Homo sapiens: one gene and its partners. The protein of the gene in region 2 purifies or fractionates together with the protein of the main gene of each other region. This does not show direct contact. Each region holds a gene or a part of one and is shown on either strand. Other genes may lie near its edges. The genes, in order: NUP214, G3BP2, POM121 and IGF2BP3.

Region 1 (7,519 bases), on a different chromosome or scaffold from region 2:
TGCTTTGAGTAATCTCCATTCCAAAGGGCAACTCTGCTCTCAGGAAACTTTTAATATATTCCTTGAATATCAATATTTTCGTAAGTCATCACTAGGGGTTATTGAGAAAATTAGATTTTTGAAATTAGTATGTATTTAAGATAAATAATTCAAGATTGGGGAAACAGAAATAATAGAAAGACATTATCAAGAATCAGCTGAAAATATGTTCAAGGCATCTCAGCCTCCATTTTCCTCTGTAATGGAAAAGATTTCAGGCTGGGTGCGGTAGCTCACACCTGTAATCTCAGTACTTTGGGAAGCCAGTCTGAGCAACATAGCAAGATCCCATCTCTAAAAACAAAAAACAAAAACCAAAAAACTTATTTAAAAATAAGCCAGGTGTGGTGGCATGTGCTTGTAGTCCCATCTGGGAGGCTGAGGTGGAAGGATCACTTGAGCCTGGGAGTTCCAGGCTTCTGTGAGCTACAATCGTGCCACTGCACTCCAGCCTGGGTAATGGAGTGAGACCCTGCCAATCCATCAATCAATCAATCAGAAAAGATTTCAACATGGGACAAGGTGACTCAGGTGTGATCTTCCAGTGAGAGCAGGAATGCCCTGTCCAGACTCTCTGCTCACCATTCCTCAATGTAACTGAGGTAGTAATGATGCTGTCTCTCCGTGCAGCTGCCATAACAGGGCTCCATAAAGTTCACAAATATCTCTGGGTGCTTTTCTTCTTTTTTCTACAATGAACAAAGCAAGAAAAAAAATTCTCATGTGCAATTTTTCTCAGATCCCACAGCAAAAGAATCTCAAATAATAAATCATTTAAAGTTATATGAGAATATTTACTCAAAGTCCAGATATACGGACATGGTATAAAGGCAGCACTTAGTACAAGGAGTACAAACATTGGCCATCAACCGAACTGCATTTAAACTCTGTTCTGCCACTTTCTGCCCACGAGACATGCAGATTTTTCAACCTTCCTGATACTTAGTGTTCTCATGTGTATACTAGACCTACTAAGCCTACTTCAGAGGCTACTGTAAAGTGTAAAATGAAATGATACATACAAAACTTCCAGCCCAGTACATGAAACATAAGTAGCAGTTAATAAATACTAGTGTTAATATTATCCCCTAGAATAGAAAAAACCTCTAATCTTAAAATAAGGCATCTAGATAAACATATTTCAAAAACTCAACCTTATTAGAAATCCAAAAGAGTTAAAAACAAGACATCTTTTTCAAGTATCAAATTGGCCTCCCTTGACACACAATCTCAAACACATACCAGTCATCATCTATCCCTAACACGGCTTTATTTTCTCCATCACTCTTATCAGTCCTTGATCTCACATTTAGTATTGACTATCCCATTAAAATGTAAGACCAGCCAGGTGTGGTGGCTCAAACCTGTAATCCTAGTGCTCTGAGAGATGAGGCGGGAGAACTGCTTAAAGCCAGGAGTCCGAGACCAGCGTGGGCAACAAAGCAAGACCCTACCTCTGCGAAAAATTTAAAAACAGCTGGCTGTGTTGGTGCATGCCTGTGGTCCCAACTACTCGGGAGGCTGAGGCAGGAGGATGGCTTAAGCCCAAGAATTTGAGGCTGTAGTGAGCTGTGATCGCACCACTACATGCCAGCCTGGGCAACAGAGTGAGATTCTGTCTCTAAAAAATAAATAAAAATTAACAACAACAACAAACTTAAAACCATAAAAGCAAGCCCATCACCTTGATCACTGCTATATACTCAGCTTTAAAGCAGTGCCTAGCACACTGTTGGCATTAAATATTCGAGAGCAAATGAAATAATTTTAAAAATCAAGATACTGTCTTGCTTTTCTAAAATTTATCGAGTTAACCAAGACTCATAGTTTATAGCTTAAGCAAAATCATTTTTTTTTTAACCTCATAACAGTAGAACATGCTGTGGACACTCCAATTTTAGACCCCTGGCCCATGGTGCAGCATGGAAACCTTATACCTGAAGTTGCATAATCACTGCCAGTAAGTAAAAGAACCTGAAATCAGGCCAGGTGCGGTGACGCACACCTGTAATCCCAGCACTTTGAGAAGCCTAGGTGGGCAGATCACTTGAGCTCAGGAGTTCAAGACCAGCCTGGGCAACATGGTGAAACTCCATCTCTACCAAAAAAAAAAAATTAGCCAGGCATAGTGGTGTGCACCTGTAGTACCAGCTACTCAGAAGGCTAAGGTGGGAGGATCACTTGAGTCCAGGAGGTCCAGGCTTCAGTGAGGTGAGATCGCATCACTGCACTCTAGCCTGGGCGACAGAGTGAGATCTTGTCTCAAAAAAAAAAAAAAAAAACACAAACACAAAAAAACCCCTTGAAATCAAAGCCTCCAGCTTTATTAGAAGACTTCTCTAATTCTCAAACAATGAAATTTCTTCCACAGGCATACCGGTAGTAGAGCCATCACCACATCTGGAGACGTTTCCAGGGTCCCATCTGCAGCAGCATACACTATGGCGAAGACGTAGGTACCAATCCACAGCACATCCAGAACTGAAAGACACATCTTAATCAGTAGCTCATAAAAATGACAGCAACCAGATACAAGAAAAAGCAGCTTATGTTTGGAATAGCCACTATGGATAAAAAAAAAATCAAAGGCCCTGATTTCATTGACTAAATATAATGCACAGGTACAATGACCCAAGAAGCCCAAACTCATCCCCAAATGGTAATTTTTCTGCTGGATTATAATCAGGGCAAATTATGAAGAATTGTAATAAAAAGTCGGGATCCATTTCATGTCATTTATCGTGAAACACAGATGTCACCCAGAGGGCCATAATTTACACTGACTTAATTAGCTGTTTGAAATAGTGACATTATTCATAAAGCAAACACCAATACCTCACTGAGCAGGTACATTACATGATTTTGAATTTCTGTAATATACATAACATGTCATTAGAGGTCAGCCCAATAAGAAAAGCAGTTGTTACCTCTGACAGGATGATCTGACTCATAAAACGGAGGACAAGGAATGACTTTTTTTTCCTGCAAAGTCTGAAAGAGATTTGGAGGGGAAAATAAAGTATCAAATGAAACAAATCCTAAACCAATCAAACTGTCAAATCTAATCTATTCCTTAGATGCTACCTGTTCCATCTCCTTGGCCGGGAGAGACTGAAGAAACAGAATAGTGCTATCTACTTCCAGGACTTCATCCTACAGAAACCCATGAACGTGGCTGGGTGTGGTGACTCATGCCTGTAATCTCAACACTTTGGGAGGCCGAGGCAGGTGGATCACCTGAGGTCAGGAGTTCGAGACTAGCCTGGCCAACATGGCGAAACCCCGTCTCTACTAAAAATACATAGCTGGGTGTGGTGGCGGGTGCCGTAATCCCAGCTACTCGGGAGGCTGAGGCAGGAGAACTGCTTGAACCCAGGAGGCATAGGTTGCGGTGAGCTGAAATCACGTCATTGCACTCCAGCCTGGGTGACAAAAGCAAAACTTGGTCTCCAAAAAAAAAAAAAAAAGAAAGAAAAGAAAAGAAACGCATGAACGCATGAACATGTTCAGATATAGGTAATGAGAGTAGTCAATGCAACACCATTTGCAGCAGCAACGCCACTAGCACTGATGCAGACAATCATCAATAGTGGAATAAGGCTGGGCGAGGTGGCTCATGTCTGTAATCCCAGCACTTTGGAAGGCCAAGGTGGGCACACTGCTTGAGCCCAGGAGTTTGAGACCAGCCTGGGCAACATGGCAAAACCCTATCTCTACAAAAAATACAAAAATTAGCTGTGCATGGTGGCAAGTGCCTGTAGTCTCAGCTACCCGGGAGGCTGAAGTGGAAGGATCACCTGAGCCCAGGAGGCTGAGGCTGCAGTGAACCATTACGTTATCACACCATTGCACCCCAGCCTGGGCAACAGAGCAAGACCATCTCTCAAAAAAAAATAATAATAAATAAATAAAAAATTAAGGCAAACAGCAAAGCAAGAAAATTTAAAAAATTGCATTATCTTTTTACAGGTTAGTGTCCTAAAAGATTATGTACCAAATTTCAGGTAACTTTTGGTAATAACAAATAAGAAACATAACCTTAACCTTAAACCTATACCACCTACATTCACCACTCTGCTCCCCTCCTCGCCAGAGAACAGTCTTGAGGAGGAAGGCACAAGAAAGGCCTTAGCACCACCTGTGAATCCCTCCTTCGTGTCCAGGCTCAATAGACATATGGGGGTTCCTTGCAACTCAATTGATATTGAAGGATATTTGTGAACATTATTTCAAGAAATTCACAGGGAGGATGACAGAGTGCACATGCAACAAGAGTATCCATTTTCTTTGGTGCCCATAGTTAGACAAACAGACCTTTAAAGACAGACTCAGTTAAAAGACAAATACTGTGCTTTAACCCAGAGTGATTCTGCATTATCATCATAGTTTTTTCACTAACTCTTTTCCCTTGAGCTGTTTTTATGGAATGGACTGAAAAAGGTGGGGAACAGCGCATAGCGTATGATCACATTTTACATAAAAACAACAACAAAAAAAAAGCAGCTACCCATAGACTATTTGTATAACATCCAGAAAAGTATGGAAGGCTATCTACTCAACACAACATAGTGGGTGCCTCTGGAAGAAGGACTATGGGAAAGGGAAGAGTTCCACTCTTCATTCACTGATGGATTTGTTACAATGAGTATAAATTACTTTTTAATAGGAAAAACAAGAAAGATACTCCCAAACCACCCCCAAAAAAGTGGGCAACTTAAGAAAAATTCTGAAGTTCAAGATAAGAACTTACAGGAAGATACTGGACCACAGTTCCATTCTGTTTTCCCACTGCCAGCTGCTTTCCTTTGGGGCTCCAGCACACTGAGCAAAGACAGTATTACCAAATGAAAACAAGAAAATGGAGCAAACCAATAAGATCTATCACACACAGCTAATTATCAATTCTCATTCCTCTGTCAGTCCATGGAAGATTGTAGGATCATCTCTATCAGGCAAAGTGGAAAAAAGTAAAATCATTTTAACGATATAAGCCAATTGATTTATCACTGGGCTATTGAATTGAAAGCTAAAAATGCTTTTTCAATAGATTACTGCCCAGAAAGCTGCAAAATACAGAAAACTCTGTAGTCTTTACATAAGACAAGGAGAACAGAGAAGGTTTCCAAATACCAAGAAATCACTGGCCGGGCACAGTGGCTCATGCCTGTAATCCCAGCACTTTGGGAGGATGAGACGGACGGATCACTTGAGGTCAGAAGTTCAAGACCAGCCTGGCCAACATGGTGAAACCCCGTCTCTACTAAAATATACAAAAATTAGCTGGGCATGGTGGCAGGCACCTGTAATCCCAACTACTCTGGAGTCTGAGGCAAGAGAATTGCTTGAACCCAGCAGGTGGAGGTTGCAGTGAGCTGAGATCGCGCCACTGCACTCCAGCCTGGGCGACAGAGCAAGACTCTGTCTCAAAAAAAAAACAAAAAAAAAAAAACAAAACCAGAAATCATTCTCCTGCTCCCATTTAATATTTAAAATGCTTTTCCGCCCAAAGGTACAAATGACTTTCAGAGTACCACCGTTACAGATCCAGAAACAATTATTCCCAAAAAACACTTCTAAACCAGCTGTACCAAAATATTTCTCCAGAAATCCCAAGTACATTCAGGTTAAATTATGTATGCTGTTTGGCTTCAAGGACATTAACTATGGGTATAAAGAATACTCTCAGCCGGGCACAGTGCCTCACACCTGTAATCCTAGCATATGCGGGGTGGAGGAGGGCAGATCACTTGAGGTCAGGAGTTCAAGACCAGCCTGGCCAACATGGTGAAACCTTGTCTCTACAAAAAATACAAAAATTAGCTGGGCATGGTGGCGCATGTCTATAATCCCAGCTATTTGGGTGGCCGAGGCACGAGAATTGCTTGAACCCAGGAGGTGGAGGTTGCAGTGGCTGAGATGATGCCACTGTACTCCAGCCTGGGCGACACAGTGAGACTGTCTCAAAAAAGAATACCTTCCATCCTTAACCTCCCTCGTCATGAAAAAAAAAACCAAAACACAAAAAGCTATCCACTTTCACTTCTAGAAATCAATTCTTAAGTAGATGACCATGATTGTATGCTACAGTGTGAAAGCCTTTATTACTCACCAGAGGTTACTGCTACCGTGGAAGGAAGAGTTGCACATACTTTCACTGTTTCCGTGACTTGCAGGACAGCAATACTACCATCAGCCAGACAAACTGCCACCATGGAGGGGACAGTGGGGTTCCACTTCATATCAATCACCATGCCTCCTGCATCTTTCAAAAGCTTATGATAGGCAAATGGGCGTTTTTGCTGTTTAGCCTTTTAAAACAAATATGCAAAAGTGAAATAAGTTAACAAATAGTAAATGCAGAAACATTTAATATTCAATGGAAATTACTGAATACACAAGGTATCTCAAATCAGTTTATTTTTCTCCATAACCATAAAAAAAGATTGTTTTATGCATCAATCTATTTGCTATAGACAATTTCAACACAACTTTGAAAATGGCAATCAATTATTCTAACATGCTTAGGGGGACTCTCAGAAGGGGAATGCACAATTGCAAAATAACCAATAAATAGCAGACAATAGATTAAAATCTTGGCTCTGCTTCTTAATAATGTTGGGACCTTGGACAGTTACTTAAACTCTGAGCCTGTTTCTCTACCTATAAAATGAAGATAATAGTACCTACTACATAAGGCTGTGGTAGGCATGAACGAGGGACAAGGCATATAAAGCACTTAGTACAGAGTCTAACACACACAGTCAGTATAAACACTCACTATTATTATCATTCTTAAACTGCTTGGAATGGAAGAACATCCAAAATGTAGGAACTTTTGACATTATGTATTCATCTATGACTTTGGGCAAGTCACCTAAGCCTCCTGATAACAACTTAGGGCAGATGGCGTTATGAAAGAATTTCTTGAAGTCCCTTCTGTCTCAAAGATCTATGATTCTATAATTAAGGATTTTTTTTTAACCCATATTTTAATCTAGAGAGAAACTTCAAGGGTTAACCTATGAAGCTTCCAAGTTGTAATTCAATACAAGGAAATCTGCTTAGGGTTCTCATGTTGACATCACAGTATAACAGTAGCTTACCTCATTTGAGAATGTGCGAACATCAAAAAAAGCAATAATGGAACCATATTCACTGGACATCATGCACGCAGAGAGTGTGAGGTTATCACAGCTCAAGGCCAGGTGATGGATTGGGAATTTCATAGGAACTAGCAAGCCTTGGACTTTATCAACTATGAAAACAAAAAAATACAAAGCAGAAAACGGTATGTTCTAAGCATAAAGCCACAACCTCTATCCAGTTCGATGTGAAAAAATTTTTGCATCTACATAAACACACATACACCCCAATACCTAGTTATACAGATAAATCTTAACTTTCTTAAAGATATATAATGATGGATTAAGTATCCCTGGAATTCTTCCTCATACAATCTGGGGAAACTAACTGTGGCTGC
Region 2 (8,247 bases):
CGCCTGTAATCCCAGCTACTCAGGAGGCTGAAGCAGGAGAATCGCTTGAACCCGGGGGCGGAGGTTGCAGTGAGCTGAGTTGTAAGTACTTGGTATTAGTTATTATAAAAAGAATAAGACCTCTAGTAATAGGAGGCAGTTCTCTTTACCAGATACTGTTACCAAAGGTTATGTGGGTGCTAAGACACAGCTTATCTCCACTATAGGATACTTACCCCTTTCCCCTCTGGAGTCCCTCACTCATAGCTGGGCTCAAACTAGTCAGGTTTATTTATTTTAATTGAACCATGGACTATATCCATTTCCAACAGCTAAATGCATATTAATACTGGAACTTTCTGAAATTCCAGATGGTTTTTGTTTGAAGTAACTTAAACAATCTAAGGAACACTATACCTTTTTAAAGAAATGACCTTCAATCTTTTGTGGTACACCATTGAATGAAAGCTTCACAAAGAAGATCTAAGAATCATAGTGGTACAAATAAATAATAAAAGTAAGTTATGGATTAAATCTCTTATTCAGGCTCCAAAAGGTGTTTTTGTTTTCTGTCCTTCTCAGAAGTTGAGGGAGGCTAGTTTTAAAATTCAGAAGCTATTAAAAGTGACCAAGCAGTAAGAAATGGAAATGCTTGCTGTCCACAAAAATAAAGCATGTATTTATACTATGTTTTAAAGTTTAACAAGTAACCTACTATTTTCTTTTGTCTTTAAAATAGATAGGGCATTATCTTCATTTACAGAAAAGGATGTTTAGAGAGCCTAAGGAAAGGTGTTTGGGGTTCCTCAGTTACAGTAAAAAGAAAGAGGATTTGAAATCAGGTCTCCTGACTCCTGACTCAACTGATGTTTTCATTACACTTTGGTTAGGAACAACCGCTTTGGAAGAGCAGCCAGCTCTTCCAACAATACAAAAAATTAATTTTAAACAAGCAATTGTTAGCTTATGTGAAACTGTTGAGAAGAGTGAAAAGCAAAGGAATACAGCAGGACAGCAACAGAAAATCCAAGAATAATTTTCAATATACCTATGGTTTCAAGATAGGGTAAAATACTTGGAAATTAGCAGATAAAAGTAAGCAGAAACACGACAGTCAAGAAACTAATTCTATTGCTTCTGAAGGTAGGCCAGGACCTTCCTGAAGGTGGGTGGACCAATTTATTCTATCGGATATAAAACAAGTGTCTACCAGTGGAGAGTAACTAGGTCATGTTTGTCCATTAAATTCTACTGAATTTAAGTTCAGACGCAACACTTTAGTTTGTGCCTTTCAAAATCAACATTGAAAAGGAGTCATTCACTGTCTCCATATTCACTCAAAATATGTGGAAAGTCTTTTTAAAGCAATCTAGGGGGAAAATGTTCAATCCTAATTATGCGTAATAAACAGCGATAATTTTGCAGGATAAGGAGGGAAGTTTTCAGAATCTAAAGACACAGTGCCAACACTTTCTTCAAACCAGGAGTTGCCTGCTGACAAATCAACTGCTCAGCTGCTAACTGAACAGTTAAGTTAGTTACTCTACGAAATGGTCAAATAATGTGTTTTCTTCTTTACCTTCTAATTTTTATCCCCATCCATCCCACAAGCATTCTGGTTCACTCTTGATGTTTTTTCACTATTACTAATATTTCGACCCTGAATATCAATCTGAACTATGACAGCTCTTAGTAAGAAATTCATTCTAGGTCCTTATTATTCCTACAATTCCTTGACTGCTTTTCAGAATTAGTTTGTAAAGATTAAATCATAACATAAAGGCCCATAAGAGTAATCTTAAACATTTAAGAAAAATGTTACTGCCAAAGAAAGGATAATTCAATCCTGAGGTTCAAACTCATCGTACCGTTTATCTCCTAAGACCAGGAATCTTGGATTATCAAAAAGACCACTGGATGCTAACAGGGCCAAAAGTTTACTTAGAAACTTGGTTCACATGCCTAAGGCTATATTAACTGCCAAATATGGAGCTAGAGAAAAATTGCCATCATCTCCCACTCTAGTACACCGGGGCTCTCTTAACGACAGTTAATGTTTCCTAGATCCAGGTACCTGCAACACTAACGTTTGAAAGACCAGAACAAGGTACAGAGCCTTGAACCTAAAACCACAGTATCTTAATCCAAGTTAATATCCCACAACAATCATACAGGGAGAACAGGACTTTACTATTCCAGCTAAAAGTGCAAGTGCCTTTTTTTTGTTGTTGTTATGAAGGAAAAGGCACTCTCCTCCCACCCCCCAAATCCGTTAGAACATTAAGTATGTCTTGGGGAAAAAAGCTGATCTATGCAGGAAATTATAGACGAAAATCTATATTCGCCCCAAAGCGGCAAAGGGCCATCTTAAGAAATCTGCTTTTAGAGACGCAGGAAAAATTCTATCAGATTCCACTAACAAAATCAACACAATCTAGGGAAGCTTCTGTTCCTTTCTGTCCCCCCATCCCAACAAAAGCGGGAACCCATCCCCCAAAAGCCATTCCCGAGTCAATAAGGGATCGTCTGCATAAGAGGGGGACGAAGAAGGCGCACGTTACAGTTCCAGTATCCGAACACGTTCGGATTAAACCCGCGGTGGCAGGGAGAGGGGGGTTGGTCAAACACGACGGAACACTAGGTACTGGGTAAGCGAAGCGGCGGCTGCCTTCAAACCCGGATTCTGTTTCCGTGCACAGAAATGGTGCCCGGAGGCCGCCACTTTCGCATCTGCGTCGCTTCTGCCTCCGTCGACACAACCTCTTTTCCCCTCCCCCCACGGGCGGGGTGGCGACGGCCTCTCCGCTCCGAAGGAACAAGGTACAAGAGCCGAAAACGATTCGGAAACAGGAACGGTGGGCTACCCACCCTAAAACATCCCCTCCAGAAAGCCTGCTCCCACACTTCCTGTATTAAGCTTCCATCAGCGCGCCTTCGGGAGCTGCTGCGTGCCTCCCCCCCCACTTCGCCACCTCATCCCCAATAAACCTCAACCCCACCTGTGCACTCGGAGCCCTCTGCCCGCAAGACGCTCGCGGGTCACCTCCCTTCCCAGGCGGCCTCCCACCCCTCACCTAGAGGAAAGACTGGTCTTCTCTCACGCACACACGGCACCGTAGGGAGCCGGCAAGAACAATGTCTCTGCCGCTACACCTCCGGCTCCCGGGCTCACACACCGGACGATTGCCTCGCGCCGCGGAGCGCGAATGGAATGTCCCTTTCCGACCACCACACCGACCTCCCCTCCCGGCGCCCGTACACACCTCCAGCCAACGGCGGCGGCGGGTACGTCGCGCGGAGGTCAGAAGAGTCGCTGAGGACCGGGTGCGGCGGGTTCTTATTGCTCGCCGCCCCCTTCCTCCGACAACTCGGAAGCCTCGGAAGCCGGAGAGCCGCGAGTTCGTCTGCCTCACAACCACCTCTTCCCGGGCGCCAGGCGCTGCGACGTGCGACAAGGACCACGGACGTCCCGCCCCCTTTGCCACCGCCCCCTCTTATTGTTTTACCCCTGCCGAAAGGGCCAGGGAACCCCCGAGCACAGCGTCAGCCAATCACGCATCTCCTCCAGAGCCGGACCCAACCTTCCCGTGTCCCTCTGCGGAGCACGCGCAGTACGCTGCCGCGCTCGCACACGCTCGCGCCCGGAAAGCCGGGGAACCGGAACCGGCCTAAAGCCAAGATAAGAGTCCGCTGATTTGACGTCACAAGCAGGCTGCCTTTCTCCGGTCCCGAGGCTCCAGCCTTGCCGCCCTTCTTCCTGATCGCGCAAGCGAGAGCTGGTTCGCAGCAACGCAGTGTCTTTTGTAGACTGATATTCTGGTCCTTTTTATTAATGGGAAGGAGGGAATTTAGTAATCTCTCTGAATAGGTGTCTGCAGGTTGCTGCTGTAGACGAGCTTAAAATGCAGCCGGTGATTTCAGCTGTTTGCACACTAAACTCACCTACATTGTTTACTTAACCCATCCTAGGTTTTAAGCCCCATTAAGAGGCCCTGCAGTAAAGGAAGAACATGACGTGGGCTTTACAGAGGGGGAAAAGACTATTTCTTTGTGTCCTTGTTACGAATTTAGGCATGGCTAAATATCAGTAGATACTAAAGCATTTTACATACTAAAGCTAAAAGAAGGCCTGAAATACAAGGATTACAGTCCTGTTCTAGCTCTAAGCCCAGACTTGCCCCCAGGGTGAGACACTGGTGACCTTGTTTCATGGACAAAGCCAAGCCAAATCTTGTAGTCAAGGAAGCCACTTTGCATCTTAGGTCTGGCAGTGTTTTCAGAGAATACCGAGATAGCACAGGAATTTTGGAATGAAGGACTGAGGAAGTGTTCAAAGAAACGGAAAGGAAAAAATACATTAATGAATGCTTACGAACTAAACATGGTGGACGCAAGCATGTACATCTCATCAGTTTTCTTCGCAATCCTGTAAGGGCAATTTTAAGGTATTTGGCATGTTAAGACAATACGTCAAATACCTTAAATATTGGCAGAGGCAATGCCAACATTAGGGCCTCCAAAGTCTACAATATCTTTACCTTTAGACTGCTTAAAGATACTGTTATATGCAAAATATTTGGGCAGACCATCACTTTAATGAAATCAACCTGATGTTTTTCCTTAAAGCATCAAAATACATTACATGCCGGCTGTCCTTTAATATACTGGGCTTATATACCAGGCATTCTTGTAATTATACAGCCTTCTGAGCCTCACAGTAACCCTATGAGCTAGTTGCTATATGTATGTACATATATATATATATATATATATATTTTTTTTTTTTTTTTTTTTTTAAGATGGAGTCTCTCTGTGTCGCCCAGGCTGGAGTGCAATGGCACGGTCTTGGCTCACTGCAACCTCCGCCTCCCGGGTTCAAGCGGTTCTCCTGCCTCAGGCTCCCTAGTAGCTGGGACTACAGGCGCATGCCACCACACCCAACTAATTTTTATATTTTTAGTAGAGACGAGGTTTCACTATGTTGGCCAGGCTGGTCTCGAACACACCTGACCTCGTGATCCGCCCGCCTTGGCCTCCTAAAGTGTTGGGATTACAGGCGTGAGCCACCGCACCCGGCCAGTAGTTGCTATTTTTATGCCCATTTTATAGATGAGAAAACAGGCTTGGAGAGGTCAAGTAACTTACCCAGGACTACACTGCTACTATTCACTGGAGCTGGGATTCAAACACAGGCAATCTGCCTCCACAGTCCATACCCTCAGGCAAACTATAGAATACTCCCATTGTACTAATTGCCGCAATTCACTTATCTGCCCTACTGCTGACTAACCTTCAAGTGTTTCCGGTTTGGAGCTCTTCCGTGCAATGCTATTATAAATATTCTTCACCATGTATCCTGCAGAGGTGCAGAACTTTCTCTAGAGCAGTGGTTCTCAGACCTTAATGTGCACCGAAATCACCTGTAGGGCTTGTTAAAACAGATAGTTGGGCCCCACTCCCTAAGTTTCTGATTCAACAGAGGCCCGAGAATTTGCACTTCTAACAAGTTCTCAGCTGATGGTGCTACTGCTGCTCTAGGAGCCACACTTTAAAAACCACTGATATAGGCCGGGCGCGGCAGCTCACGACTGTAATCCCAGCACTTTGGAAGGCCGAGGGGGGCGGATCACCTGAGGTCAGGAGTTTGAGACCAGCCTGACCAACATGGAGAAACCTCGTCTCTACTAAAAATACAAAATTAGCCGGGCGTGGTGGCGCATGCCTGTAATCCCAGCTACTCGGGAGGCTGAGGCAGGAGAATCGCTTGAACCTGGGAGGCGGAGGTTGCGGTGAGCTGAGATCGCGCTATTGCACTCCAGCCTGGGTGACAACAGTGAAAACTCCGTCTCAAAAAAAACAAACACCACTGATCTAGGGCAGAGGTGGGCAAACGGTTTGATAAGGGAAGGATTAGATAGTAAATATTTTTGGTTTTGAGCGCCACGTATGGTTTCTGTTGCATATTCCTCTCTCTCTCGCATCCTTTAAAAATTTAAGAAACATTTTTAGTTTAGCTCTAGAGCTACACAGAAACAGCCCTCAGGTAACCCTGCTCTTGAGTAGACACCAATAAGTGGAGTTAATGGGAAAAAAGATTCAGCGATCTTCAATGTTAAGTAAATATCTCTAACCTATTCTAACTGGCGATTTTTACCTCATAAACATATCTCTACACAAATAGCCCCTGCCCAGGTTCAGGCCCCTTCATCTTCCCAGGAAGACTGCAGTGGCCTCCTAACTAATCTCCCTGCCTCTCAAACATAGCCTCCATGAAGCAATGTCCACCTCCTATAGACTAGGCAGGGAGACCAGTGTGAACGGTATTCATTCGGTGGCTCAGGCCAAAAACCTCTTTTTCTCACACCAATTTATTGACAGCCAATTGCCAATAATTTTTTTTTTTTTTTTTTTTTTTTGAGATGGAGTCTCGCTCTGTCATCCAGGCTGGAGTGCAATGGCATGATCTGGGCTGACTGCAACCTCCACCTCCCAGGTTCAAGCCATTCTCCTGCCTTGGCCTCCCAAGTGGCTAGGACTACAGGCATGTGCCACCACGCCCATCTAATTTTTCTATTTTTAGTAGAGACGAGGTTTCACCATGTTGGCCAGGTTGATCTCGAACTCCTGACCTCAAGTGATCCACCCACTTCGCCGAATTGTCAATACATTTCTGTTCCCTCTACCTTCAACATTTATTCTGGATTAAATACTTTGCATCACTGTTACTGCTGCTATAGTAGTCCAGGCCACCATTGCCTATTGCAATAGCTTTCTACTTGGCCTCAATGCTTCCACTCTTATTCCACTACAGTCTGTTCCCCTCACAGCAGCCAGATCTTTCATAGTTATAATTGAGATGGTCCCAAAACCTTTAAAAGGCAACACAAAATCTCAGGTCCTTACCATGGCCTACAAGGCCTACCTGATCTAGTCCTTACCTATTACTTCCATTTCTTTTCTTACCACTGGTTTTCTCACACCACCCCAGCCAGCTCTTCCTTTGACATTCTCATCACATTACCACCCCAAGGCCTTTAATGTGAACCTTTATCAAAACACTGTGAAAAATAAAAGTAAATGAATCAGACCCAATCACCATTAGCAGGTAAATTTTTAAAAGTAAAATTACTAGAATTATATTACCTGATTCCTGATTTTTATTATAAACTTCAGCATAAAATACTTAGATAAGTATTTGAATAAGATAAGACATTTGAATTTATAAAGCTTTTCCTCTACACCCTTTCATTTGACCATTCTCAACTTTACTGAATACTAAAAGATCAACCAAGTCCATTATCACCACTTTTGCTGATGAAGTAGGTGTATACGAGATGACTACATGCGGCTGGGCGCAGTGGTTCACGCCTGTAACCCCAACACTTTGGGAGGCCCAGGTGGGTGGATCACGAGGTCAGGAGTTCGAGACCAGCCTGGCCAACATAGTGAAACCCCGTCTCTACTAAAAATACAAAAATTAGCCAGGCATGGTGGTGCGCACCTGTAGTCCCAGCTACTGGGGAGGCTGAGGCAGGAGAATCACTTGAACCCAGGAGGCGGAGGTTGTGGTAACCCGAGATCGCACCACTTCACTCCAGCCTGGGCAACAGAGCGAGACTCTGTCTCAAAAAATAAAAAATAAAAAAAAAAAGAGATGACTACATGCATGTTTAGGGGTCACACACCCCACATAAATAAGGTTTATGAAGACCAAGCATTGGAAGGGAGTAAAATCCAAGTCCTTAAGGGAAACGCATTTTTCTTGGAAAGTGTCTTTACTCACCATGTTTTTAAACTTTTAAGGCTTGCAAAACAAATGTCTTGGCCCCACTACTAATTCAGTTAGGAAGGATGATGCTGTGGATTGAATGTATGTGCCCCTCCAAAATTCATGTTGAAACTTAATCTCCAATGCAAAAGTATTAAAAGGTGGGTGGGACCTTCAGGCGGCAACTAGGTCATGAGGGCCTCACCTTCATGAATGGAATTCGTGTGCTCATAAAAGGGGATTGAGGGAGTTCATTAGTCTCTTTTGTGCTTTTGCCCCTTTCACCATGTGAGAACACAGCAAGAAGGCACCATCTTTGAAGCAGAGCAAGCCCTCACTAGGGTTGGCCCTTTGATCTTGAACTACTCAGCCTTTAGAACTATAAGCAATAAGTTTCTGTTGTTTATAAGTTACCCAGTTGAAGGGTGGTTTTGTTGTTGTTGTTGTTGTTGTTGTTTGAGACAGGTTCTTGCTTTGTCTGTCACCTGGCTGGAGTGCAA
Region 3 (7,224 bases), on a different chromosome or scaffold from region 2:
TCCATGTGCTCCCTCTGCCAGGAGGAGAATGAAGACATGGTACAAGATGCGCTGCAGCAGAACCCGGGCGCCTTCAGGTACAGGGCGTGCGCCAGGGTCGTGGAGGGGGGGATGGGGTGAACTGCTCTCTTACCCAGCATTGGGGCTGTTTCTCTTGCAGGCTAGCTCCCGCCCTGCCTGCCCGGCCCCACCGAGGCCTGAGCACGTTCCCGGGTGCCGAGCACTGCCTCCGGGCTTCCCCCAAGACCACGCTTAGCGGTGGCTTCTTCGTTGCTGTAATTGAACGGGTCGAGATGCCGACGTGAGTGAGTGGGGGCATGCTTGGGAGGCGCAGGATGGTACTGGCACATCTAACATCTACATTTCTCTAGCTCAGCCTCACAGGCCAAAGCATCAGCACCAGAACGCACACCCAGCCCAGCCCCAAAGAGAAAGAAGAGAGCAAAAAGCTGCAGCCGGTGCTTGCACACCGCCTTGCACATAGCAGAGGCTCCGGGCTCACTCCTTCCTGGTGGGAAAGGAAGATGCCTGTCCTCTCCGTGGAAGACCCTGGGCCCTCACCGCAGGCAGCAGTTTGCGTTTTGAAAGGTTATTGGGTCCCTTCCTCGGGCTGTGTTCTTGCTGGTGAGCAAAAGTGTTGCCTGCAGAAATAAAATGCAGAACGTACTCTACGATAGATCACAGTTTTTTATTCTTAATGTCACAAGCAGGAGAAAAATCTCACATTCATACTAAAAATTCCAACTAGACTCAACAGGAATGAAGTCTCTATTTGTAATGGAAAGTCCCAGCCTCCCGCTGCCGTCCAGTGCGTGTACTGTACACATCCACACTCATTCTCACTCAGGGTTCCCGGACCGGCTGTCCTGCCTGCGGAACTGAGGTAAACTAGCTCAGGTACTGACACTAGGAGGGTCTACCTTACATAAGGTACAGGTAGAAGCTTGATTGCTAGGCCCAGGCCCACCCAGACCCTCCAATCCTAACAGGTATTTAGGCTTGAGGTTCACTCCCTCCTCAGCTGCACACGCAGCCAGGTATTAACGAGGATCAGAGCTGTTCTGAGGGGTGGGAAGGAGCAGCCCCGCCACCACTCACTCACCCTCAGTCACATCGGGGAGGGGGCACCAGTTACATTTACATCACATTATTTATAAAATAAGAATTACATTTCATATAACATGGCCAGAAGGAGCTCTAGTCCCCCAGGAAAGCTGCCGGGGACAGCATTTGAGCCTCTTCTTTGCACAGGCATAACTTAACTATACAGCTAATTCCTAGTTAATAGCATTTATACTTAACCACCTCAATGAACCAAGCTTGAAGGAATTTAAAAGGCAATTTAGCTTAAATACAAAAATAAATTTTTGTTAAAAAACGTTTAAATATTTTTTTCTTTTAATTTAGACACACGCATTCATACTTCTCCCAAAGAGGTTGGGCGTGGCAGCAAGGCGCTTGGGCCTGGGGTATGTGGTTTCAGAAGGACGGAAGGAAAGGATGGGCTGCAGAGGGCCCTGTTTGGGAAAAATAGGATTTTAAAAATATGGTTCATTAATTTAGGTTTTCTAACATCTACTTTGGGTGATGTAGCCTCCAGTGAGGTCAGTTAAGTGGGACAGAAACGGCAGAGGGAAGAGGTCTTTGCTTCCCCTGGGCCCATTCTCCCTGGCTGCCAGCCCTTGAAGTCAGAACACCATGGGAAAATTCAGGAGTCGGCACTTGTAGCCGTCAAGTGGTGCTACTTTCCACATTCAATTAGCGAGGCCCCAGAAAACTTGAAACAGGAAGTCCGGCACTACCAACATGCCGCCACTCATACAACTCAACTCTTCCTCCAAACTCGATTCAAAGAGCAATACACAGAGCATCAGACAAAGGAACACAGGACAAGGCTTGAAACATACAATCCTGGAGAGGCAGACGAGGGCCCAATGGGGCCAAAGGGTAGCTGGGCGAGGAGGCAGCTGAAGCAGCGGTGGGCATCCTGCCTGCTCCAAGAGCTTCTCCCTTCACCCCTGGCTCTGCCAGGCTAACAGTCTTGAGCCACCAAGCTCTGAGGGGCCAAACTGGCAGAGGGTTGGAGATGAAACATTGATTCAGGCTTGGCAGGAAGAAAACGGCAGGAGCAGCACCCACTGGGGTCTCCAAGGCAAAGCTAGATTCAAGGGCATTTAAAAACGAAGGAATCCTGCAAGGAACTGGTGAGGGACACAGCAGCAAGAAATGGGGAAACAGAGTCCCCAGAAGGGACCAGAGGAAGAGAACCACTTCTCACAGCTAAGCCAAGCAAGATAAAGCTTTACGGATAGCCCATTTCCCAAATCCCATCAGGTGCACACCACCGATCCAGGCGGGCTGGACCCTGCCCCCTCCAGCGACGACGGTCTCGGGGAAAGGTGGAAGGGGCGCCTGCCTAAGGGTGTGCTAAGCGGGAGTCAGGGCAGCGGACACTATGTACAGGTGTTTCCTTAGTTCTCCAGCCTCCCCAGTAGAACTGTTCAAGTAGAGGTCCCGGGCTTTGGCCCTCCGCATCCTGCTTCCCCTTCCCTGAGGCTTGTGCTTCCTCCAGAAGGGAAAGGGCCCCAGGGCTGCCACTGCCCCCTGGCGGCTGAAGCCAGAGATCCGGGGTAGGTTTGCTTTACGCAACTGGAAGGGTCCAAGGCTCTTCCTAGCAGGTGCCAAGGTCCAGATTTAGGGAAGGGGTGGGGGGAACAGGGACAGGGGACAAAGGCTACTTTTTGCGGGTGTGCTGCCTTCGGGCCTGCAGTCGCTGTCGAGCCCCTGGGGTCTTGGATCCCGCACCAATGGAAAATGAAAGGGCCGCCGATCCTGGAAAGATTCAACAAGACCTCATCAGGGCAGCTGCTACCTGAGACTCTGACTCTGGGTGCCCAAATCTCTGGAAGGCCAGGCCAGTAATAAAACACAGGGTGCCTCAATAGGGCTTTCCCCGCTGCATCAGAAACACTGTACGGGAGAAGCCTCCTGAAATGCAAACTCCCAGAGAGTCTCAGAGCGAGGCCCAAGAATCCATTTTTACCTGGCTTCCCATGGGAGGCAAACTTCCACCCCGGACAGCTCCTCTCTGATCTCTGCCATCCAACTCCCATCCCTGGGTTGTGCTGGACTCCTAACCCGAAATGTCTTTCCTGTGCTGAACCTGATCTTCACCGGGCCTCAGAGGACCAGGAACCTGCCACCCCGCCCAACCCCTCCTCAGACAGATGAGCAGGGCCACAGGGTGGCTTGCTGCTTACCGAAAGGTGCAACACCAACAAAGCCTTGGGCGGGTGCTGAGGATGCCCCAAAGGAGAGGCTGCTGCCTGATGTGCCCACTCCAGGCGCAGGGGTGTTCAGACCAAAGGTGGGGGTGGCGGTGCCTGGAATGAAGAGAACAGAGAGCTGGCCAGTGAGCAGAGGGCAGAGGCAAGCGAGGAGCCGGGCAGGAGCCTGTGCTCCGCAGGGCACTTCCCACGGGACCCTCAGCCCCACTTCTGCTTCTGGGGCACTCCTCCATCAGCAGCTGAGCCAGACAACCGAGTCTTCATGCCTGGTGCCCCAGCTCAGCCTGCTTCTCCCACCCGCTAATGGCCACGCCAGGGCAGAGAAAAAGCCCCCCTGCCCCGCAGCCACCTCGTGGGCCTCCTGACCATCGCTGCAGAGGGGAGTACTCTGGGGCCCCCGCCTCCTAGCGTACCTGGGTTGGCTACCTCCTCTGTTCAGGCCTTTTCCCCCAGCCACCGTCCCCTCCCCTCTGAAGCCTGGTTTGTCCGTCCCGCGTCTTTTGTGATGCCCCGTGGTCCCCTCCCTTCCCCGGCCTTGCCCTGACTGGCTCTGGCTGCCTGCCCGAGGCCCTCTCTGGCAGCCCCTCTGCAGGGATGGCTGCTCTCAGGGCTTGGCCTCCGGCCCGGACAAGAGGAAGCTCCCTGTGCTCCCACGCTGCTTCCACACTGTTTCTCTTCCTTCCCTAAATACCGTAACTCAAGTTCAGATCACTTTAATCTGCCATGTCCTCATGTCACCTGTCAACTGCCAGGTCACTCCCTGATTCACAGAGGACCCTTGGCTCACTGGCTTCCTTCCCATCACCACTCACGGTGACTTCGCCCTGTGAGGCTGACTGATGGTCCTCTCAGCCCCTCAACCCTGCCACCCCCATGACCTCCTCTCCCCGACCCCTGCCACCACTCCTGCAGCCACACTGTCACCACAACTGCTCCGGCTCCCGAATCTCCTGTAGGCACCACCCCTCCTGCAGCTGACTTCACCCGCTCTCCACTCCTGCACCCCCTGAGCTGCATCGGGGCACTGACCCGCTGCCCCTCCTGCTGTGCTTGCTGGGGTCTCCATGGCCGGGTGGCACCAGCTGTCCGCTGACCTTAGGTCTACACCCACAGTGTCGCTGGGAAACACATGCCATGCTAACTGGCCTCACTTTAACTTCACAATCACAATTTTCCAGCCCACAAACTGCCTGGAAACTGATCACACTTTTTAATATGATGTTCCTTTCCCCCACTGTCCAAAATGACTATTTCAAAAGACCCCTTTTTTTATACACTTTATCCTGACCCTCTCTCTCCCAGATTTTCTCTACTTCACGAAGCAAACAGAAGCCATGGGATCTACATTCATCTTCCACATGGGAGGAACCATCACTGCATCCTTCTGCCTGATTCTGCAATGGTTTTCCTGAACACTTAAGACCCAAACACCCAACCCTGGCCACAAACAATCCTTGCCTCTTGGCCTCCTTCCACACCACTGCTTTAGCTCCTGCCCTCCTGCCATGCTTGTCTTTGTTCTGCTCTTCAACATACCAAACATGTTTCTGCCTCTGGGCCTTTGCATGCGCCATCCTGGGCCTGAAAGGCATGTCCACTTGTGCTGTGCCCACCCCCATATTCAGCTTACGGTTTGTTTTTTGAGACAGAGTCTTGCTCTGTCACCCAGGCCGGAGTACAGTGGCATGATCTTGGCTCACTGCAACCTCCAACTCCTGGGTTCAAACCATTCTTGTGCCTCAGCCTCCTGAGTAGCTGGGATTACAGGTGGGTACCACCACGCCCGGCTAATTTTTTGGTATTTTTAGTAGAGACAGGGTTTCGCCAAGTTGTCCAGGCTAGTCTTGAACTCCTGGCCTCAAGTGATGCACCCTCCTTGGCCTCCCAAAATATTGGGATTACAAGCGTGAGCCACTGCGCCCAACCTTCAGCTTACAATTGTTAACTACTCAGAAGGCCTTTGACCAGTTAAATCCACAATGGCTCCTCCAGTCATTACTACGTTAGCAAAACATGTATCGTTCCCTGGCATCTCACTGAGTTCTATATTCAGTGCCTGTCTCTTCACTGCCACAGCATAAGCTCCCCGAGACCACAGGCTTCGCAGGCACAGCTTTTCAGTGTCCGGCCCGGTAGCCCAAGTCCACGCCCCTCCTTACCTCCAAACACAGGTTTGCTCTCAGTTGTGCTGCTCACGTTGAAGGCAAACGGTGTGCTCTGGCCGGTGGTGCCCAGGGCGTTCTGACCTAAGCCCCCTGCGAAGGGGGTGGAGGTGGCTGTGCTCCCACTCTGTCCTGCTCCAAAGCTGAAAGCTCCGGTGGTGGTGCTGGAGCCTGGGGTGGCCACATTGATCCCAAAGCTCCCACTGCCAGCGGGGGCTGCCGAACCCCCAAACGTGAAGGGTGATGGTGTTGTGCTGCCAAACACCGAGCTGCTGCTCCCGCTGCTGGCGGTCTGGGTGGTGGCTCCAAAGCCGGAGCTGGTGGCTGCACCGAAGAAGACAGCAGTGGAGCCGCCAAAGGCGGGCTGTGAGCTGGCGGGAGCGCCGAAGGCCGAAGCCGTGGCTTTCAACCCAAACGCCGAGTGCGTGGCACCGCCAAAGATAGGATGGATGGGCGTAGGCACGTACGCAGGCACGACCTTGATCATGGACGGAGGTGCAGGTGTGGGTGCAGCAGCCGGGGCTGCAGAGTTTCCAAAAGTGAAAGAGCTGCCAAAGCTGGGGGCAAGGGCCGGCTTGGCGGCCCCCGGTGGCTGCCCCTCAGCGGCCCCAAATGCGGGCTGGGGGTTGGCTCCCGGATATGATGGGAGCGGGGACTTGGCGCTTGAGCCAAAGGGAATGTTGAACGTGGGGGTGCTCGTGTTACTGAACGTCAGAGTGGGCTGGCTGCTGGTGGCCGGGGCGGAGGTGGCGAGGGTGCTGCCAAAACCACTAAAGTCGGCAGCGCTGCTGCTGGTGGCCGTTGGCACGGCAGTGTGCAGGGACTGGCTGAAGGTGGTGACTGTGGTGGTTGTGGGCAAGGCAGGAGGTTTGCCAAACTGGAATATGGAGCCCATGGCCGGGGTGAAGCTGGCAGCAGAGGCCTGGGGCGCCCCGAAGAGGAAAGGCTGTGAGGCGGCAGTGGCGGTGCTGGTCGTGGTACTCACACTGCTGCTGCTCACACTGTTTATGCCAAAGCCAAACGCAGGCTTCGAAGCAGAGTCTGTGGATGGACTGGCAGAGGTGATGGGAGCCACAGCAGAGGTGGCGCTGGCCAGGCCAGTGAAGAGCGGGGCAGTTGTGGTGGGAGCAGTGGCGGGAGTAGTTGTCTGCTTGAAGAAGGGAGCAGGCAAGGGCACAGATGCAGGTGGCCCCATGCTGCTAAAGACAGGCTGGAAGGTCGGGGCTGTGGTGCTGGTGGTCGTGGGGAGGGAGGAGCTGGAGGGCGCTGTGGCTGTGACTGAAGGGCCAGGCGGTGTGGGGCCTTCCTTCTCACTCTTGGGTGGAGCCGTGAAAATGGGCTTGAACATGGGAGGTGCTGAAGATGCAGCAGGGGCGGCAGGGCTGGAAGGTGAGGTGTTCTGTGTTCCAAACAGGAAGCTTTGCTTGGGGGCGGGGGACGGGGCAGATGTGGCTTGGGGTTTGGTAGCCGTCTCTGCCTGAAGGGTTGGAGGTGCCTTGGTGTCAGTGGCTGGTACCATGGATGGAGCAGGGATCAGCCCCAGCAAAGTGGTCGGGGGTTTGGAGTCAAAGGAGGGGCTGGGGAGCAGCCCTGGCGGCCCTGACTGTGATAAACCCAGCGGGGGTAGGAGGCTGGGTGTCTTTGGAGGTGAGAGGGCCTCAGTGGTTGCTGCTCCAGCAGATTCTGGAAGAAGAATAGAAAATGTGAAATTGGAATAAACACTTCAAAGATGATGGTATTCAGTATTTCAGTGTCCTCCCCACGCCTACCACAGA
Region 4 (7,878 bases), on a different chromosome or scaffold from region 2:
AATCATGTGACCCCTACCAAAATTCCCAACTAGAACTAAATCTATCAGGTCACTCAAATCCCTTTCAATTATCTTAATGAAATTTAAGTATGAGAACAAGAAAAATCCAAACCAACTCATCCTTAAAAACAAGATTTGTGAAAATGCTTTGCCTGGGAAGAGAGCTGAAATCTACACAGGCATACAGATGAGATGTTTTGTAGCCATCTATTTCTGCACAGCACCAGAGAAATGCATAGCAAACCCTCCTGCTCTCCAGCACACACTCTCTCACCAATATCTAACCAGATACACGCAGCCCTGATTTAAATTAACTTTCAGCTTATTATTTGGCTCAGGTTGGGAGTTGGGGGGATGGGAGAGGGGCAGGCAGAAACCCTAACCCCACCATGCAAAATCCAGAAAGGCTTAGAGGCCCACCCCGGTGCGACTGGGAGGGAGCAGTGCCTTTCCAATTGCAGTTAGAGCCGGAATCTATGGTGTGAGTTGGCTGAAGGTTTTAAAAAACAAAACAAAACAAAAAAATAGAGCCGGAATCCGGCCTGCTCTAGCGAAAGGAAAGGAGTCTCCACTGCTCCATAAGGCTTCATAAGAAAAAGAAAAAGGGAAAGAGCCATGTCTCCAAAATGCTTCAGAGGCTAAAACAGTCTATAAACATTCTGTAAAGCGACATACTACACACATGATCTCGGAGACGAGAAATCCCCGTCCTTAAGTAGTACGAATCTTCCTGTCTTCATCTTTTGGTGGTTGTAAGCAAAAATGTACCCAGGAGGAGTGGGGTGGAAAGCGGGGAGACAAAGGTGCTGACTGCAGGAACCTGTAGAACTTCGGAGTGACTCAAAGGCACTTCTGGGCCAGAGAGGCCCCAGCGTTTACGCACGCGTTCCAATACCCCTGGCGAGCTCACAGGGCAGAGGCAAATTCCTCTCCACTCGGCCGCGCCCACGGCCTCCCAACCCCGGACAGAGAAGGAAAGGAGGGACCCCCGCGTGTCCGCAGCTGCTTTCGCCTCTCCTGCTCCTGGAGGGGTGGGGGAATCATCCGCTGCTTCCCAAGCCCTGCAAACCCCCCAAACTGCTTGTTGGGACCCATTTCCCGTAGGAGCAATTTGACCCGCTCGGACCGAGGACATTCAGCTGTGAGCTTTCGAGAGATTTTGTAACCAATAACCATAATCCCGCGGCAGAGGCCACAGAAAAGCTTTCAATTCCTGCCCAGCATCATCAACACACACACCCCCGCCATAAACTTAAAAGCAAGGATTAAAGACCGGAACACCACGCCACACGGCAGGGGGTAAGCACCAGAGGACAAGAAGTTCTCAGCTGAGTCTCTCCACCCAATAACGGAGTGAGAACAGAATCGGGGCAAACAGAAGCAGCAGCTCACCTTTGCCTTTTTGGGACCGAGTGCTCAACTTCTATGGGTTTCCCGTGCAGTTCTATTTTACCTGCGGACACACAAGAAGTGAGACGGTCGGCCGAGTTCAGCGGCTCTCCCTGCCCGAAGACCCGCACAGCCCAAGCGGCGACACAAATGGCCTCCTGAGGCCCTCGAAGGGCCCCCGAGGCCCGGACGCGGCTCCAGGCGGAGGGAGAAGCCGACCCCCTCGAGCGGCGTGGGCATTTAACTCGCAGATGGTTGGGGAGCAGGGTCCGCTGGCGGGCCCACTACTTGGGTATCAGTCCAGTCTCCAAGCCTCCCCCACCCACCCCTGGGGGCCACCAACACCACGAGGCCCGCAAGAGGGACGCGGCCCACCCTCTCACCGCCCTGGACACGCTCCACAGGGCAGACTCGGGGCAGGGGGCTCCCCTGGCTTTCTTCAGGAGGGGGCGCCCTGGCCCTGCCCTCTGCTTCAGCCCAGACCCGCCGGGAACACTCAGCGGTGGGCTTGAGGAAGACAGGGAGTGGCGAGAAAGGGTCGGGGACGGCAGGGGAGACCACGAACGGGAGAACTGGCAGAGGCGCAGCTCGGCACAGGCTGAACCAGGCGCGAAGGACGGCGAGGCGCCCGCACCACGTCTGAATTGATTAAAAGGGAAGCCGAAAGGCACGGGGCTCCCATGGGGACCCCAACGCAGCCTTCCCCCTGGGCGTCCTGCTCCGCCCGGCACCGTCCCTCGCCCTGGCGGAGCCATACCCGGAGGCCGCAGCCCCGCGCCAGGGCCCGGAGAGCGGCGGGCGGCCGGTGCGTGGCGGCGACTCCCTTCCAGGCGACCAGCCGCCCCCGCCCACCTGCCCCTATCGCTCGTCGGACCAGGGGAGGTGGAACGGGGAAACCGGGCACACACTCTCTCCTCCCACAGGGTGGGGAGGAAGCGCGGGGCCGCCTGTGCGAGGCACCAGCCTCGCGGTCTCACTCGGCAGCACGGTCGAGGCCACTTTCCGTTCTCCACGGCCGGGGGTTTCGGGGCGCAGCACAGACAGCGCCGTAAATAACGACCGAGGAAAGCAGGAAGGAACGAGGCACAGGCGGGCATTCTAGCTCGGCCCCCGAGGCCCAGCGTGCCGGGGCCTGGAGCACGCGCCTGGGCCCGGGCGGGGCGCCGGGGGAGCGCGCCTCCCCCAGCCCCGCGCCCCCCTTAGCCAGCGCCGGGGCTTTCTTGACAGCGCGTTCGCCCTCACCCAGCAAACCCCGGCCGGGGAAGCAGAGCCGCGGGCCGGAGTGGGAGCCGGAGCTGAGGAGAGCCCCGGCCCCCACGCGCGTGGGTGTGGGCGCTCAGGCCTCACCCCCGCTCCCCCAGCGCGCCGGGCCTGGGGCCCGCGGAGCCACCCGGTGGGCCTGGGCGGGCGGTGCAGGGCTGGGGCGAGAGCCCGGGTGGGGCCAGGCCCGGGCCCACCTGAAAGCGCCTCGATGGCCTTGAGGGCCCAGCTCTCGTCCGGGCAGTCCACGAACGCGTAGCCAGTCTTCACCAGGAAGGGTCCCGACACCGGGATCTTGGCGTCCTTGAAGATACTTTCTAGGTCCGAGGGGGCGGCGTTCTCGCTGAGGTTTCCGATATACAGTTTGTTCATTGTGAAGAGTGGTTGTTTAAAAAAAAATAACGAGAAAAAACGAAAAATTAAAACCACCCACGGTGATGGATGGATCCAGCTGGTTTTGTTCCCCTCGTCTTCTCGCCTTTAAAATACACAAACACAGTAAGAACCAAGCACAAGAACGAGGAGTGAAAAATCAGATCCGAGGCTTGTTTTTTCCTTGTCTAGATGTGTTTTAAAAGAGAAAGAAAAGAAAAAGCCTAGCTACAACCCAAACGCATCCACCAGTCTTCCTAAGTCTTAGGAGGAGGCGGGATTAGCAAGAGAAAGGAGGAGGAGGAGGGGAAAAAACTACTTTTTGTCTCTTCCTTCCCAACCCCTTTGGCTTCGGCCAGCGGACTGTGAAAATATCACACTACGTGAGGCAGGCGCCGCCTCCCCATAAAAAACCCAGAAGGGTGACTGGCAGGAGGGAGGGGAGAGGAGGAGGAGGAGGAGGGAGGAAGGCGCAGGAGGCGGAAAAAATCCGCTCCGAGTGTCCGGCTTTTTGAATGAGCCACGTGTTCAAACTACAAATCAACGTCTCACGTGAGGAATCCCAGAGCCTCAATTAGAGTGGGTTTCGGAGAAAAAAGCGAGCGAGAGGAAGAGGGGGAGGGGAAACGAGATTGGGAGAGGGACTCTGAGAAGGGGGAGGAGGAAGAAGGAAAATGCTAAAGGAACCGCAGCCGGCACCAAGCGGGGCGCTGACGGTCACAACTCGAGTTTGTAAAGGGTTATCTGGTCTGGGCGGATCCTGGGAGGGAGGGCTGGAATATTGATTTTTTTTTTTTTAATGAGGAAATGGGCAGAGGTACTAACAGGCAGTTCCTCAGCGCTAGTTACCGTAGTTTTAATCATTCGATTTTTCAAAATAGGTTATTAACAACAAAACCAGAGTCACAATCCCGAACTCGCCTGGTGGCTTTAATGGCATTAGAAGTGTAACCCCAGCAAAGCCGCAGGCACGTTTCTAAGGCTGGCATGGACGGAAATGCTGCGAGGAGGGGTGGGGGAGTGGGTGAGGGGGGCAGGGGGTGGGGGCAAGACAGGCGGGCGACGCGCCCCACCCCGTGCGCCCTTCTCGGGCCCTGGGCACCGCGCGAGTGGGGGCGGCCCGGCCCCGGAGTGGTGGGGGATGGGATCCCGCAGCGTCCTGGGCGGGTGTCTGGGCGACACCTCCTCCGCCTCCGCCTGCGCTCGCGGTGGCTCTCGGCTTCGCGTTTGCCATTGGTTGCGCGATTCAGAAAAGGCTCCAGGATAAATGAGGCCGGGGGCGGGCTTGGCCACTGGTGGGGGAGGGGAGTGCAGGGGCGGAGGTTTCTGGCTAGGGGCTGGGGTCGTCGGGGGCCTGGGCCGCTGGAGGAGAGAAGTCAAAGTGGGAAAAGTCGGTAAAGGGAAACCCTCTCTTCCTGTAGTTTTTAAAGGGGGAGGAGTGGAGTAGGCTGGTACTTTTATTTAAGTAATTTTAGTTGGAGAACTTGAGACTTAAAACTGGAAGACCGTCGTGCATTACCCCTAGGTGGTATTCGCATTTGAAAAATTGTTCGAGTCTCTTTCTGCCTCTTTTCTGCCTGGATTTGGCCATGAGAGCCATACATAATTTTCTCTATATGTAATGAGTACAATGGTGGTTGTCGGGGGAGGATTTGGGCCCGGTGGAGCCTTGTGGGCCAACAAAATGTGAACTGGAGACGAGCAATACGGAAACGAAGGCAGTGCTGGGGTTCTAGTGGAATCTCCAACTGTCGTTTAAAGATTGTGTACTCCACTCAAAGGTTTCATTTGCACCAGATACTTGTGTGTTTTTAACAGGTATATTTTTAACAGGTATTCTATTGAAAAGATAGAAAATTCTAATTTTTTAAGTGAAAGAAATTCTATATAACATGAAAATATAGACAAGAATCTTTAATGACTTGGTACTCTTACTGGTAGAAAAAAGGTATCCTGAATAGAGGAAATATTATGATTTACACTGGAAACATCTTCGGTAATTGATACAGCCTTGCTTCTCTGTCAAAACCGTTGTTAGCATTTTAAAATGTGTATTTTTCATTTAAAAGATGAATGGTAGACTTAAACATGGGAATTGTTGCATGATATAAAGAGTATTTACATTTTGTCTTTTAAAGGGAACTTACTTTGTAATTTTGTGTTAAGGAACCGGAAGGTGTCAGATCATCCATTTTAAATGCAACTGTTCTTTCTTACAGGTTTTTCTTTCCTGCCAAGCGAATCCAACATTTTAAACGTAAACACACTTTCACAATAATTTCATTCACGTTTAATTTAATAAAATGTTGTTACTTTATAAAATAGGGGGACAGACGTGTTTTTCTGTTACAGTATTTGTAACTGAATTAAGAGCTCAGCCTTGAAAGAACGTTTTGGTAAAATTTTTCTTTAAGTTTATGGTTAGGTTGAACTTTTTAAAAGCATTTTTTTCTTTTTTTAAAAATAACTTTAGTTCTAAAGAAGAAATGTATTCTTTCTTTTGGCCTCTGTGGTATGCAAAATGTAAATATCAAAAATTATGGATTTATTTTAAATGTACCTGTTGTAGAACAAAAGCCATTTGGAGAAATGTTCTACATTCATTCATTTGGTAATATTTGCACTTCTCAATACCACTGTAAATTTTACAACCTGTTGATCATTTAACACTTTTAGTAATTTTTCATAAAAACAAATTGTGTGTGTTCAGCTTGCTTCCAAAATCAATTCAACTATGGCTTCTGGGTTGACTGTATTTGCTCTTATTAAAACTGAGACCTAAGGAAATATCTACTTCTAAAGCATGGAATAAATTGTTTATTTTCCATAAATACTAGTCCATGCTTGTCTGGCACTATCAAACAAATCTAACAGCTGGAATTTAAAACAAGTGTGTGTTTTGATGAAATATGTTCCTGGGACTCCTGTTAACCTAATCTGTGTATTATTGTAACAAACTGGATAGTCCATCTAGGACCTTAAAAACATACATGAGTAATACAAGCTCAGACATCAAAGAGAGAGGTGGATACAGTCCACTCCACTTCCAGTCTTCCAAGCATTTAAGGGTTGAGTCAAAAGATCTTAGGTAGTTGTCTTGCACTAGCACTTCAAGTACAAAGATACCTTTGGTGAATTTTCAAGAATGAATATAAAATCAATTTAAGTTCCAGTTTTTTTTTTTTAATGACTCTCACACAAATCAACTGGTTATAGGCTACTTCAGCTTCTTCCTGAAGCAGTTGTAGCTCCTAATTAATGTGAACTCCACGAAGAAAGAACTCCCACCATTTTATGTGCTCTGGGATGCGGCTGAGTCTTTCCAATTGCAGTCTGTTTACTCTTTGGACAGCTGCATCTCCTCCTTATCTGCTGAACTGAGGACTGTACAAATGTTTCTTGTGGGTCAGTGTAATATTAAAGAATAGCTATGTTTAGAAGGCCAGTTACCGTTGCTGTACCCACACGTCAGGGGCAAAGGCTGAGTGGGCAGATGGGGGGCTGCCACCCCTCCTCACGCCCGGCTTGGGACCAGCCTGGAGTCTCAAGCCGAAACCCCTCACGCGGGTGGGCACACAATGCCCGGCGTGTCGCCTGGGCCTCCTCGGAGGTGCTTTAACAGGCTCTTGCGCTTTTGAACGGCCCTCCTGGACTCTGATCTGTTTAAACTAGAGGCGTTAATAAGTGATAACCTGGATCTGCCCTCCTTGGAAGCTGCCTGCCTATATTTTATTGTTTAAAATAAATAAAAATGGTGCCCCGGGAGAGAAGATGGGGTTGTTTCCTTTTTCCTCTGGCTCTGCCCCGAGAAAGAGGGCGGGATCCTCACGGCTCACAGTGGGGAGGGTCTTTCGTCGGCCGCCGGCTCGCCTCGGAGGGCCTGGACCACTGGACCGCCCTTCCCCGGGGCCCTGCCGCGGGACCGCGGGCTTCTGGCTCCTCCTGGGGCTGCGTCCGTATGCGCGGAGCGTGTGGCCGGGCCGTCGCCGCGCCACCCCACCTGAGTCCGCCGGCCAGCGCGGGGACGCACCGGGCAGCGTGTGTTTGGCGACCCTCCCGCACCTCTGGTCTCAGTTGCGTGTGTGCACGAGGGGTTCCATAGGGCCCAGGGATGCTTGGTACCCACGGGGGAGAATCCCTCGCCGAACCCTGCGGGTCTGCGGGGCGGGCCGCGAGACTGGCGCGCAAAAGCGGCTCCAAGGCGGGGCTCCCGCGCTCCCCGGGGCCGGCTTGCCGAGTCCAAGTTGAGCAACCGGCGTCGAGAGAGACACCGCCCCTGCTGCGGGCGGGGGCCTCTCCTCGCTTCCGATTGGCTGACGGGGGGAACCTATCGCCGTCGGCCGCCTCCGCCAGAGCGGTTTGCTGGTTTTCATTCATTGGCCCCGGAGCCGCCCCTGGATTTCCATCTTTTGTGGCGCGAAAATAACCCTTTGCTCCCTCGTTGGTTTTGTTGAGGTTGAGGGGTGGGACTGTGTTCCCCTCTGCTCGCTCTCGTTTTTCCTGCCCTTTAACAGCTCGCCCCCAGCCCCAACCCCCAAGGAAGAAAGAGGGAGGTAACGCTGAGGAAGGGTGGAAAGCAGTTCTGCGTCCGTGGGTGGAGCCCGCCCCTTGGCTGACCGCATGGTGCCCGCACGGTCCCTTCCCTTCCCCCAGCGTCCAGCGCCCGGAGGTTCTGGATTTGCGCCATGCTCAGCAGCTGGAGTCACATCTTCGTTTCCCTGCCCATTTCCAACATCTTAGAGTTGATGCGTCCTTTTTTACTTAAAACAACTACAACCAACCATGTTCTCAGGTACCAGAACTTTTCTGGGCTTCTAGAGAAATCGACTCGCCCTGCCCGCTCCCTTCCTAAACCCC

The links.
Region 1: the proteins of G3BP2 (region 2) and NUP214 purify together in Homo sapiens (affinity purification with mass spectrometry; 4 studies listed by BioGRID and IntAct, with this or other methods). This does not show direct contact.
Region 3: the proteins of G3BP2 (region 2) and POM121 purify together in Homo sapiens (affinity purification with mass spectrometry; 3 studies listed by BioGRID and IntAct, with this or other methods). This does not show direct contact.
Region 4: the proteins of G3BP2 (region 2) and IGF2BP3 purify together in Homo sapiens (affinity purification with mass spectrometry; 3 studies listed by BioGRID and IntAct, with this or other methods). This does not show direct contact.

The regions. Positions count from the first base shown.
Region 1 is NC_000009.12:131,128,107-131,135,625, reverse strand, and holds part of NUP214 (nuclear pore complex protein Nup214), read right to left. Parts: intron 7,295-7,519; coding exon 7,143-7,294; intron 6,348-7,142; coding exon 6,149-6,347; intron 4,861-6,148; coding exon 4,790-4,860; intron 3,031-4,789; coding exon 2,967-3,030; intron 2,521-2,966; coding exon 2,417-2,520; intron 729-2,416; coding exon 622-728; intron 1-621. UniProt on the Homo sapiens protein: Part of the nuclear pore complex. Has a critical role in nucleocytoplasmic transport.
Region 2 is NC_000004.12:75,669,966-75,678,212, forward strand, and holds the start of G3BP2 (ras GTPase-activating protein-binding protein 2), read right to left. Parts: upstream 3,447-8,247; 5' UTR 3,243-3,446; intron 3,193-3,242; exon of another isoform or gene 3,054-3,192; intron 2,930-3,053; exon of another isoform or gene 2,848-2,929; intron 2,737-2,847; exon of another isoform or gene 2,541-2,736; intron 1-2,540.
Region 3 is NC_000007.14:72,941,745-72,948,968, reverse strand, and holds the end of POM121 (nuclear envelope pore membrane protein POM 121), read right to left. Parts: intron 7,133-7,224; coding exon 5,447-7,132; intron 3,384-5,446; coding exon 3,261-3,383; intron 2,833-3,260; coding exon 2,735-2,832; 3' UTR 670-2,734; downstream 1-669. UniProt on the Homo sapiens protein: Essential component of the nuclear pore complex (NPC). The repeat-containing domain may be involved in anchoring components of the pore complex to the pore membrane. When overexpressed in cells induces the formation of cytoplasmic annulate lamellae (AL).
Region 4 is NC_000007.14:23,467,090-23,474,967, forward strand, and holds the start of IGF2BP3 (insulin-like growth factor 2 mRNA-binding protein 3), read right to left. Parts: upstream 3,403-7,878; 5' UTR 3,022-3,402; coding exon 2,847-3,021; intron 2,559-2,846; exon of another isoform or gene 2,487-2,558; coding exon of another isoform or gene 2,147-2,486; intron 1,454-2,146; coding exon 1,393-1,453; intron 1-1,392. UniProt on the Homo sapiens protein: RNA-binding factor that may recruit target transcripts to cytoplasmic protein-RNA complexes (mRNPs). This transcript 'caging' into mRNPs allows mRNA transport and transient storage.